3 separate regions of the Homo sapiens genome follow, and all the other regions are reported to be linked to region 2. The links are microRNA targets in miRTarBase. Many come from high-throughput screens and were not tested one by one. Region 2 holds a microRNA gene; each other region holds the end of a gene's coding sequence.
Evidence for each region. The annotated mature microRNA hsa-miR-6785-5p reads UGGGAGGGCGUGGAUGAUGGUG and lies in region 2 at 1,450-1,471, opposite strand. An mRNA with a match to its seed (bases 2 to 7 or 8) in the 3' UTR can be bound and repressed. Matches are read on the target gene's strand: a 7mer-m8 pairs with bases 2 to 8, a 7mer-A1 pairs with bases 2 to 7 and ends in A, and an 8mer does both.

Region 1: the mRNA of SCAMP4 is a reported target of hsa-miR-6785-5p. Seed matches in the 3' UTR shown: 7mer-m8 at 3,142-3,148, 7mer-A1 at 3,133-3,139, 7mer-m8 at 2,919-2,925, 7mer-m8 at 2,863-2,869, 7mer-A1 at 2,565-2,571, 7mer-A1 at 2,430-2,436 and 3 more.
Region 3: miRTarBase lists PHACTR4 as a target of hsa-miR-6785-5p. Seed matches in the 3' UTR shown: 7mer-A1 at 3,340-3,346, 7mer-A1 at 3,474-3,480, 7mer-A1 at 3,652-3,658, 7mer-A1 at 3,671-3,677 and 7mer-A1 at 3,815-3,821.

What each region holds. Positions count from the first base shown.
Region 1 is chr19:1,923,788-1,927,787 of GRCh38, reverse strand. SCAMP4 (secretory carrier membrane protein 4) reads right to left here. Exons shown (of 7, transcript NM_079834.4): 7 at 1,775-3,680. The coding sequence ends at 3,504. Among named protein-coding and RNA genes, the nearest start is that of CSNK1G2, 15 kb to the left of the region's middle.
Region 2 is chr17:75,495,876-75,500,023 of GRCh38, reverse strand. MIR6785 (microRNA 6785) reads right to left here and starts at 1,476; the gene lies at 1,396-1,476. TMEM94 (transmembrane protein 94) reads right to left here. Exons shown (of 32, transcript NM_014738.6): 23 at 3,950-4,058; 24 at 3,553-3,742; 25 at 3,217-3,294; 26 at 2,826-2,911; 27 at 2,162-2,243; 28 at 1,701-1,849; 29 at 1,486-1,580; 30 at 1,302-1,395; 31 at 942-1,112; 32 at 1-762. The coding sequence ends at 690.
Region 3 is chr1:28,495,916-28,499,915 of GRCh38, forward strand. It overlaps PHACTR4 (phosphatase and actin regulator 4), which reads left to right. Exons shown (of 14, transcript NM_001048183.3): 14 at 619-4,000. The coding sequence ends at 634. Among named protein-coding and RNA genes, the nearest start is that of SNHG3, 8.0 kb to the right of the region's middle.

The DNA of each region.
Region 1 (4,000 bases), not on the chromosome of region 2:
AACACCCTTTTGCGACAGAGCTGCTGAGCCATCCCTCTTGTCCTCTATGAAGCCAGATGTTCAAGAGTTTTGCACACATTTAAAAAAGTATGCCACCCATCCTCCTGTTTAAAAAATGTATTTGAGGCCGGGCACCGTGGCTCACACCTGTAATCCCAGCACTTTGGGAGGCCGAGGCGGGTGGGTCACGAGGTCAGGAGATCGAGACCATCCTGGCTAACACAGTGAAACCCCGTCTCTATTAAAAATACAAAAAATTAGCCGGGCGTGGTGGCGGGCGCCTGTAGTCCCAGCTACTCGGGAGGCTGAGGCAGGGGAATGGCGTGAACCCGGGAGGCGGAGCTTGCAGTGAGCGGAGATCGCGCCATTGCACTCCAGTGTGGGCGACGGAGTGAGACTCGGTCTCAAAAAACAAAGTATTTGAAAAAAAATATTAACATGTAGTAAGTTTATTCTTTTGTTGTTTTTTGGTTTTTTTTTTTTTTTTTGAGACAGAGTCTCGCTCTGTCGCCCACACTGGAGTGCAATGGAGCGATCTCCGCTCACTGCAAGCTCCCCGCCCAGGTTGATGCCATTCTCCTGCCTCAGCCTCCCGAGTAGCTGGGAATACAGGCGCCCGCCAGCATGCCCGGAGAATTTTTTGTATTTTTAGTGGAGATGGGGTTTCACCGTGTTAGCCAGCATGGTCTCGATCTCCTGACCTCGTGATCCGCCCGCCTCGGCCTCCCAAAGTGCTGGGATTACAGGCGTGAGCCACCGCGCCCGGCTGGGTTTGTTTTTTGAGACAGAATCTTGCTCTGTCACCCAGGTGGCAGTGCAGTGGCGTTATCTTGGCTCACAGCAACCTCTGCCTCCCAGGTTCAACTGATTCTTCTGCCTCAGCCTCCCAAGTAGCTGGGATTACAGGCACCTGCCACCACACCTGGCTAATTTTTGTATTTCTAGTAGAGACAGGGTTTCACCATGTGGGCCAGGCTGGTTTTGAACTCCTGACCTTGGGTGATCTGCCTGCCTCGGCCTCCCAAAGTGCTGGTATTACAGGTGTGAGCCACCACACCCCACAACCCCCCTTTTTTTCTCTCCAGAGTCTCACTCTGTCACCCAGGCTGGAGTGCAATGGTGCAATCTTGGCTTAGTGCAACCTCTGCCTCCCAGGTTCAAGCGATTCTCCTGCCTCAGCCTCCCGAGTAGCTGGGATTACAGGCGTGTGCCACCACGCCCAGCTAATTTTTTGTGTTTTCAGTAGAGACAGAGTTTCACTATGTTGGCCAGACTGGTCTTGAACCCCTGACCTCAGATGATCCGCCCACCTCGGCCTCCCAACGTGCTGGGATTACAGGCGTGAGCCACTGCGTCTGGCCGATGTTTGCTTTTTACGTAGGGCCAGTGACACTGGCTTTCCATCTGTGCAAGTTTCCTTTTTTTTTGAGCCGGTGGGGAGTGCAGTGGCGCGATCTGGGTTCACGGCAACCTCCGCCTCCCGGGTTCAAGCAATTCTCCTGCCTCAGCCTCCTGAGTAGCTAGAACTACAGGCACCCGCCACCGCGCCCGGCTAATTTTTGTATTTTTAGTAGAGGCCGGGTTTCACCACGTTGGCCAGGATGGCAGGGTCAGCCCTGGGCACACCTGGCTACAGGGCACCCGGGGCCTGGGTGGGAGGAGGCGCTGCAGGGGGGCATCCTGCCAGAGGCCATATGCTGAGGGGTCTCCCAAGGGAGAAGACGGCCTGGGGGAACCACACATGCTCACAGCACAAACGCGGCAGGTCCCTGGCTCTAAGTGCAGAAACATGTATTTATTTCCAGGATATTTTCACATAACAAAACCCCAACGATGCGGCGAGGGGCCACACACGGCGGGGGAGGGGTGGGGGGGGGTTGGGCCTGCCAGGTGAGATTTTGTCTGCATCAGTGCAGGCGAGAGGCTGGGGAAGGGGGTGCCTCTTGGCAGACTGGCCGGGGGCAGGACCTGAAGACCCTGAAGCATGGCCGTGAGACCCATGGGTGCTCCATCCTGGCTGCCGTCCATCGAGACACCATGGCCGCCTCCGGGCACCCAGCGGCATTCCGTACCAGCGAGGGGACTGGCTCACATCCTGGGGAGGGCTCCAGGGCAGCAGGCGTCCTACAGCAACAGCATCCTGGGGGTGAACGGGTGGGGAGGGGTGGCAGCCTGGGGTGTCCAAAGTTGTGGTCAGCGAGTGCAGGAAATGATGAAGGAAAAGTTTCTTTTTGGCCCAACCGTTGTGAATGGTGCTGTGAAAATGTCTTGCCTGGGAGAGGTGTTCCAGGGGGAGTTGGGGGGTGAGGGGACAAGACAATTGTGGCCGCTGCCGGACCCCTCCATAAGGCACAGATTTGACGGGTCCCCTCTCATAAAAGGCCACTCCAGGCTGGGCGCGGTGGCTGACACCTATTATCCCAGCACTTTGGGAGGCCAAGGCGGGTGGATCACTTGAGGTCAGGAGTTCGAGACCAGCCTGGCCAACATGGTGAAACCCCATCTGTACTAAAAATATAAAAATTAGCTGGGCGTGGTGGCAGGCAACTGTAATCCCAGCTATTTGGGAGGCTGAGGCAGGAGAACTGCTTGAACACGGGAGGCAGAGGTTGCAGTGAGCCGAGATCACACCACTGCACTCCAGCCTGGGCGACAGAGTGAAACTCTTGTCTCAAAAGAGAAAAAACAAAACAAAACAAAACACAAAGGCCTCTCCTGCAGGGCTCCGGCTGCTGGGAAACCGGCTCTCTGCCGGTTTGCTGGGTTTGGGGAGCGGCTGTGCTCCCGACCTGGCCTGGGTCCCCGACTCTGAACTCAGGGGCGTGGAAAGACAGCCTGCCAGGGATCCCTGTTTTGGAGGCAGGGAGGGTGGCCCCAGGATACCCTGGACCAGGAACTCCCCAGGTATGGTGCACGTGGGGAGGGGGCGAGGCTGGAGCCGCACAGATCAGGGGATGGCGGGGACAGCGAGGACTCAGCTAGGCACCAAGCCCTCTATCACTGCAGGGGACCGGAAGCTGGCCCCGACGCCTCTTATTAGTTCCGGCCAAGGGCATCTGCCATGGTGACGGCGGGTGGCCGGTGAGACGGAGCTCCCCATCAGACCCGCTCTGACCTCAGCGCCAGCAGCTCTGGGAGGACGGGAGGGCGGCCGACCTGCTGCCACCTGTCCCCCGGAGTCAGGCCTCGAGACCTGAAGACAAGGCCGTACCAGCCGTGCAGTGGACGGCGGGTGACCACACGTTTCCGGGAGCAAGAGGGCGTCCTGTGGACGGCAGAGGCCAAGGGCTGCTGGGGAGTGCTTGTGAGGAACTCCGCTCTCGGATGAGATGAACACGGGTTCTGTGGCCCTGGCAGGAGGGGGGCGGTCCGTGGCCACCACCGGCTTCCACCATCCCAGCTGGGGGGATGGGGCCCCAGGTACTCCCAGCCCTCGGGACCAGGGGTAGCAGCAGGAATGAAGGGGAGGAGGTGGTGGGCGGTGGGGGCAGGGCAGGCTCCCTCTAAGGCCACTGGCCACTGCCCGGGTAGCTGGGCACAGTGGGGTACTCGGGCAGGCTGTTGCCTGAGAAGTTGTTGTACTGGGCCTCCCTCGACGGTGGGTTCCGCCAAGTGCCCGTGTTCCACTCCGTCTGTGCCTTCTGGAAGCTTCCGCCAGCCCCTCGGTAGATCCTGTGCACCTGCAAGGACAGAGGACAGGGAGGCAGAAGACAGAAAATGAGCATGGCGGCCGGGCACGGGGACTCACGCCTGTCATCCCAGCACTTCGGGAGGCCGAGGCAGACAGACTGTCTGAGCTCTGGAGTTCGAGACCAGTCCAAACAACATGGTGAAACCCTGTCTCTACTACAATATAAAAAATAGGCCGGGCACGGTGGCTCACGCCTGTCATCCCAGCACTTCGGGAGGCCGAGGCGGGAGGATCACGAGGTCAGGAGATTGAGACCATCCTGGCTAACACGGTGAAAACCTGTCTCTACCAAAAATACAAAAACAAAAT
Region 2 (4,148 bases):
AGTAAAAAATATACACCAGTAGAAACTTCTCCCAGAACTGGGGCAGAGGCTGAGGAGACCTGGGCCAGATTCCCCAAGACTGACAGGCAGCCAGCTTGAGCCAGGCACAGGAAGAGGCTCCAGGGCGAAGCGGGGGCCCTGCTCCATCTTCAGGTTCAGGCGGGAGACTCCCCCACAGAGGGAGGGAGGGGAGGCACTCGGGGCCACATCCAGGCAAGCACCACCCCCCTGCCCTCCACGGCAGCCTTGGGAGTTGGACGCGTCGGCCAAGGCTGCTGCTGTTGCTCCTCCAAAGAAGGTTGGCTTCAAGGCCGTGTCCAGGGACCCACGAGCAGAGGCACTGGGGGGCAAGGGATCTCCAAGGGGGCAAGGGATCCCTAAAGGGGGTAGCTCACAGGTGAGGGGGTTTAGGGCCCCTCTAGGGAGCGCCTGAGGCCATACATTCAAGAGTGTCCCTGGTGAGGCCCAGGGAAGAGCCAGGACTGGCCAAGGGCCCAGGCCGTCAGCTCCTCCACAGTGAGCCCCAGGGCTCAGGAAGACAGCGGGGTCTGACACGGGGAGCTGGGTTTCCAGTGCCACGGGTGCAGGAGCAAACCTGGAAACATTCATGATACAAACTCCCCTGTTCAGAAATGGGTCTGGCTTTAGCCCCAGGGACGGGGGCAACTACAGCCACCACAGCCAGTGGCTCAGAAGGGAGAGTTCATGCCCAGCTTAGTTTCAAACTGCAGCTTCTGTCGCTTCTGGTAGCGGACTCGGACCCTGGTGGGGCAGGAGATTAAAGTACAGGTTGGCAAAGATCCTTAGACCAGGGGCCGGGGCAGGACACCAGAGGAGGAGGGAGGGATGGGCAGCGGAAAGGTGGGGGAGTGTCGCCAAGGGAGTAACAGGTTTAGGGAACATGCCTGAGCCCAGAGGGAGGCGCCCTGCTGACAGCTCACCGAATCTCATGTAGCTTCACGATCTCATTGGTCACCACCACAAGGACCAGGGACAGGCAGCCCAGGAGCCATGTCAGCAGGGGCACGTCCTCCAGGCCAAAGTGGACGTGGCTGTCCCTGTGTGTCCACAGCTGCAGGTCCACAGCCGTCTGGACCACCTGACCCAGCAGCCTGCAGGAGGTGGCGGCCCCGTGTGAACCCGACACTGCTTGCTTCCTTCCCTGCTCTTCCCAGTACAACAGTTAGCTCAGGCAGGGTACAGTTAAACCACTGGCCCCGGTCCCGCCCTCCGATCCTAGCCCTGCAGAAGGCCCTCTCCTCCCCAGCCCACACTCCGCCCTCCATCCTAGCAATACTCACACCACAGGCACTGTCACGGCCCACCAGAGGTTGGTCAAGGGGCTCTTTCTCCACAGGGGCTTGGTGCGATGCACATGGGTGATGGAAATGAAGACTGGGGAAGGTGGGGCGATGTGGGGGTCAGACTTCCACAGTGGGGCTCCTCTCCCACCATCATCCACGCCCTCCCAGGGAGCCCTCTCACCAGTGTGCAGGACAATCAGGGCGGCCGTGAGCTTCTGAGCCGACAGCAGTCCATTGGCAAAGTCCTCAAACCAGGCTGGAGCCCTGTCGTCGTTGCTGCCAAAGTGAGGCATGGGCTCAGCCCCTCTAGGGCCGCAGGGAGGTAGGCTGGGGTGGGGAGGGAGGAAGCCTCGAGGCGAGGCAGGCGATGGGTGGATCTCTGGGGCTGGGACCCACCTGGGCAGCATGACGGAGGAGCAGTTGGTGAGGTTGCGGTCCCGGGAGCTGTCACAGAAGCTCTGCAGTGTGAAGCCAAAGCAGATGAGGCAGGAGCTGATGGTGAGGCTGAACTTGAGCAGGAAGCAGAGCAGGAAGTAGTGCTGGGTCTGCGGGAACAAGGCCAGTCACTCCTGGGGCGCACAGCCCCTCTGCCGGCTGCTCCTAGCTCTTCCACGTATTCAACGGGCTCTTAGTAAATGGTCAGGCCTGGGGGGATAGGGAGCTCAAGCCCCAGCAAGGGTCTTTCCCAGCTCTGTGCCACTACCTCCTCTTTGATCTGGGGGAAGACTAGGAACCAAGTGCCGGAGTTCTGCTGGAATCCCCCATCCAGAGCCTTCCAGATTAGCCCCTCTCTCCTCCCCCAATCCTCAGTCCCTTCCATGCTCACTTGCAAGGCTCACAGGGTCTGTTTTGCTTACCTTCTTGGGAATGGACTGGAGGTTTTTCCCCGTTGCCATAGACATGATGGAGCTATGGGGGGGCTTCCCCAGCAGAGAGATGCTGAAAAGCAGAGATCAGGTAGAGGGATGGTGACAATGACCCTCTGTCCCTCAATTCTCATAGAGGGAACCTCTAGGGAGTCTTGCGCGTGAGGTCGAGTCTGGTGAGGGGATGGAATAAAACAAAGGCTGGACGGCAGTGGCTCACACCTGTAATCCCAGCACTTTGGGAGGCTGAGATGGGCAGATCATTTGAGGTCAGGAGTTCAAAACCAGCCTCGCCAACATGGCAAAAACCCATCTCTACTAAAAATACAAAAATTAGCCAGGCATGATAGTGGGTGCCTGTAATCCCAGCTACTCAGGGGGCTGAGGCAGGAGAATCACTTGAGCCCGGGAGGCGGAGGTTGCAATGAGCAGAGATTGCACCATTGCACTCCAGCCTGGGTGACAGAGCGAGACTCCATCTCAAAAAAAAAAAAAAAAAAAAAAAAAAAGACAAAGGGGGTTCCCTCCATGCCTCCTGTACCAGAGGAGGTGAGACCTGAGCAGTTCCAGAACCTTGGGCTCCTGGGGCTGCACAGTGACATCCAGACACCTCCTGCTTAGGCATGGGGTGTGGGGAAGATACATGGCATCTCACCTGAGCAGAGGGTAGCAAAAGCAGGACAGCCACAGGATGTCGGTGGTACTCAGGAGTGGCGGCAGCTGGACCAGGCAAGAAAGGAACTAGACCAGGAAAGAAGCCAAGAGCCACAGTTCAATTCAGGCAAATAATAAGGGCATAGGAGCCCCCGAGCTCCCTTGCCCTGGGCCCAGATAGATGCTCACATCCTGCCAGAGGGAACAGGGGCCGGAGGGAATACTCTTCTGCCAATGAGGGTCAGCTCAAAAAGCCCAGGGGCTTCACAGAGGCTCTGGGGGGACCCCTTGACTGTACTGCTAACCCCAGCCTCCTTCCTCAGATTTTCAGCTGGCCCCTGAGTGAAGGGGTGAGTGGCACGGGGGCAATGCCTGTGCGGGCCCCACCTCACCTGGATGACCACAAGAGTCAGCTGGCACTGCAGCAGGAAGAGGAAGCACTTACGGATGCCATAGGTGGCATGCCGAGCCTAGGGACCAAGAGGGACAGATTATGGCCTGGGTCTACCTGGCCTCTCCCAGGCCCAACAGCTGACACACTTTAGCCAAGAGCCAGACGCCCAGGATGCTTCTACGAGGGGAGCAGAGGCGAATGTAACTGCCTGGGAGAGCCCGCTCGGAGGGCTGGGGAATGAGGTCCCCGGGTTCAAACAGGTCCTTTGCTGCTACTCCCACCCCAGGCGGGTCCTGTCCTGCGTCTCTCCTCCTTTGCCTGCCGAAGCACCCACCTGTTCGATAAGCCGGATGATGCTGATGGTCTCCTCCTGGCGAAAGGTCAGGGAACAGGGCAGGCTGTTGAGCTGCCCTGACAGCTGCAGGGGAGAAAGGCCATCCGAGGCCTGGGCCATGCTGATGCTGGTGGCGTAGCCAAAGGTCTCCCAGGAGCAACGGGATGGGTACAGGGGATCCAGGGCAATGCTGCTCAGGGTGGGGGACACACACACTTCAGCTGTATCTCCCACAGGACTGGGCACCCCACCCTCTTCTCCCACCATGCCCAGGTGCATTGGTCCCAGCCAGGGCGAGGTCGGCTATAGTACACACCCCCAGCCCCACGCAGGCCCATCTGATCCTCCGGTCTGGGAGGTAGAGGCTGGCCCGCAGGCTCCAGGGTCCCGCCCTGACCTGATGTCGCTCTGGAGGAAGAGGCAGCTGTTCCGCAGGTTGGCAGAGCTGCCCAGGCAGCAGGTCACCTCCCCGTACTCTTGCATGATCTTTATCATCTCACACATGGCTGAGGACAGCGTATAAGGGCACCAGAGTCAGGCAGGCAGAGCACCAAGTGGGCACTGGGCAGAGACCCATGGGACAGGAGAGCAGGAGG
Region 3 (4,000 bases), not on the chromosome of region 2:
TGGCCAAGGAAAGTTGTTTTTTATTTAAAGGGTAGACAGAGGAAAATGAACCAGGACAGCATACTGAGAAAGATCAATTGAAGAAGAGAGAAAATTATGGAAAAGATAGTGTTACAGAAGCCAAGAGAAGAGTTCTTTTTTTTTTTTTTTTTTTTTTTTGAGACGGAGTCTCGCTGTGTCACCCAGGCTGGAGTGCAGTGGCGCGATCTCGGCTCACTGCAAACTCCACCTCCCAGGTTCACGCCATTCTCCTGCCTCAGCCTCGCGAGTAGCTGGGACTACAGGTGCGCGCCACCACGCCCAGCTAATTTTTTGTATTTTTAGTAGAGACAGGGTTTCACCGTGTTAGCCAGGATGGTCTCAATCTCCTGACCTCTTGATCCGCCCGCCTCGGCCTCCCAAAGTGCTGGGATTACAGGTGTGAACCATTGCGCCCAGCCGAGAAGAGTTTTAAGAAGGAAGCAGATGAGGAGTATCAGATGCAACAGAAAGGTCAGGTCGAATTAGAGCAGAGGAAAGGCAGTGTTAATTAGGTATAACATTTCATTACTACTGATACATTAATAGCAAAGCAATGTACATCATGTGGTAACTTGTCTCTTTTTTAATCTCTTTTAGCTACCATCGTCCATGATGCCAAAGGTTGAGAGAGGAATCAACATGGCTGCTTTGCTGCTTCCTTCTCCAAAGTGACATATGGAGGGAACTTTAGCACTTCCCAGCACAGCCAGAATTGCATCCTCTGGGATCTTCTGAGGTGGACAGCACTTTGAATGTAGCATTTCACTGGAACAGAGTCTTATGTGCTGCACCGGGGGCAAAACAACACTTTGTCAGTGCTTTTGAACCTTTCAATATTGTAGCATGCTTGAGGAGTTTTTCCCTTACTGGCCACCAAAGTTCTGAACCACTTGCAGGTTCCAGGTTTTACTGGCTGCACCACACCCCTTCCCCTAGATGACTGCCTGTGCAGAGACACAGTTTGCACCATTAGCCTTACCTGCCCTGCCCTGATTGTGAGACCCAAATGTGTAGGCTCTAAATTCCAGCCATCAAATCCAATTCCTGGTGGGGAAAACCTTCTGGAGACCCCCAACCTTCTGATAAAAGAGTCTCTACCTCCAGGGAAAGCCTTCTTACCACACTGGCATATCAGATGAAAGCATTGCACTGTACCTCTCGTAACACAGCAATACAGTCCTCTTGAGGCACTCAAGCCTGAGAGGAAGCTCAGGATCTGACATGTTCTTCCTTTTCCTCACAAGTCATCATGATTTTTTATTTTAAAATAATCTGGAAGTAATGGGAACTTAGTTTTTCCTGAACTCCAACCAGAATCCAAATTGGTTAGATGAGGCCAGGCGCGGTGGCTCACGCCTGTAATCCCAGCACTTTGGGAGGCCGAGGTGGGTGGATCACCTGAGGTCAGGAGTTCAAGACCAGCCTGGCCAACATGGTGAAACCCCATCTCTACTAAAAATACAAAAATTAGCCAGGTGTGGTGGCGCCTGGTTGAGGCATGAGAATCGCTTGAACCCAGGAGGTGGAGGTTGCAGTGAGCCAAGATCATGCCTACTGCACTCCAGCCTGGGCAACAAAGTGGGACTCTGTCTTAAAAAAAAAAAAAAAAAAAAAATCGGTTAGATGAGAAAGCATGTATATTTTCTATATACAAAAACAAGAAAGGCGTTTTGAGCCCCTGTGCTCAGGCCCACTCCCACACTGTGGAGTGTACTTTCATTTTCAATAAATCCCCTTATTCCTTCCTTGCAAAAAAAAAAAAAAAAAAAGCCTTAGCCAGATTCAGTGGCTCACGCCTGTAATCCCAACACTTTGGGAGGCTGAGGCGGGTGGATCACCTGAGTTCAGGAGTTCAAGACCAGCCTGGCCAACATGGCAAAACCCTGTCTCTACTAAAAAGTAAAAAAAATTAGCCGGGCATGGTGGCTTGTGCCTTGTAGTCCCAGCCACTGGGGAGGCTGAGGCGGGAGAATTGCTTGAACCTGGGAGGTGGAGATTGCAGTGAGCCGAGATCGCGCCACTGCACTCCAGCCTGGGTGACAGAGCGAGACTCCGTCTCAAAAAAAAAAAAAAAGCCTTAATATTAATGCTAACGTGGCAGAAAACTAGCAGGTTACATTTTATAGGCTATTGTAGTTTTATTTACCAAATGATATTCTCTAAATCACTTCGACCAATAAATGTATTCTCCTCCTTAAAGCAGAGTTGTATCAACTCTGTGGGAGCATTTATGAGCTGTCAGTCCCCACACTTCTAGCCAGAATCACAATAAGGTCTGGCTGGGTGTGGGGTGCTGCATAGGAAAGGGTCTCTGGAGAAGCAAGAAGGGCACAATCATGGCCCACTGCTCCCCTCTTCTTCTCAGTGCTCTTTGCCCTCTCCTGCTGCGTGCTTCCTCTTCACTCCAGTGCTGATCCTCCTGCTCTCTCTGGCAGCTTCCACCTCACCCGCCCCTCTTCCACACTATAACCAGTATGGTTGGTGCTGGGGCATTGACTCAGCCCCCCTGCTTTCTGCATTTGTAATAGATATTAATATGATTTCCTAAAACAGAAGATTTTGTTGCTTTCTTTGAACTTGTATTGAAAACCATACAGTCTCACTGTTTTGCTTTAATTCCTATCCACACTATAAATGGAAGAAAAAAATTAATAGCTTCTGTTTAATCTGATGAATGTGGCTTTTTTTCCCTTCACTTTAATGTTCAAGAAGTTGTGGCTATTTCATAGATTTCTTCTGATTTATTCTGTGGGTCCCTGTTATCTGTTCTTTATGTAATCTTTCAGTAGATTTTCATCCTTTCATATCCACATTCTTATGTGGACTTGCTGAAGAAACAGAATATCAGTTCAAAACAAAACCTAGGCCAGGCATGGTGGTTCACGCCTATAATCTCAGCACTTTGGGAAGCCAAGGCGGTCAGGAGTTTGAGACCAGCCTGACCAACATGATGAAACCCTGTCTCTACTAAAAATACAAAAATTAGCCTGGCGTGGTGGCACGCATCTGTAATCCCAACTACTCAGGACGCTGAGGCAGGAGAGTCGCTTGAACCCAGGAGGCGGAGATTGCAGTGAGCCAAGATTGCACCACTGCACTCCAGCCTGGGCAACAGAGCGAGACTCCATCAAAAAAAAAAAAAAAAAAGAAGGAAGGAAGGAAAGCAAGCCCTGAATCCACATCTCCTTGAAGTTTTTTTTGTTTTATTTTGTTTTTGAGACAGAATTTTGCTCTTGTTGCCCAGGCCGGAGTGCAATGGTGCAATCTCAGCTCACTGCAACCTCCGCCTCCCGGGTTGAGGCGATTCTCCTACCTCAGCCTCCCAAGTAGCTAGGATTACAGGCATGAGCCACCACGCCTGGCTAATTTTATATTTCTAGTAGAGATGAGGTTTCTCCATGTTGGTCAGGCTGGTCTCAAACTCCCGACCTCAGGTGATCCACCCACCTCAGCCTCCCAAAGTGGTGGGATTACAGGCATGAGCCACCGTGCCGAGCCTTCCTTGAAGTTTTTTGTTTGGTTTTGATTTGTTTTGTTTTGTTTTGTTTTGTTTTGTTTTTGGAGATAGGGTCTCACTCTGTTACCCATGCTGGAGTGCAGTGGCACAATCTTGGCTCAGAGCAACCTCTGCCTCCCAGGCTCAAGCAATCCTCCCACTTCAGTCTAAGTAGCTGGGACTACAGGCACGTGCCACCAGGCCCAGCTAATTTTTGTGTTTTGTTAGAGATGAGGTTTTGCCATATTGCCCAGGCTCGTCTTGAACACCGGGGCTCAAGGAATCTGCCCATCTTCGCCTCCCAAAGTTCTGAGATAGCAGGTGTGAGTCATCATGCCCAGCCTCCTTGAAGTTTACTAACAATTGGGATAACTGAGGGAAGAGAAGTGACAATTCCACTCAGTCTATTAGAGGTCTGGATATAAGGTAGCCACACAATAACTCTAACTTGACTTCTAACCATTCTATCTTATTGATTTGGAG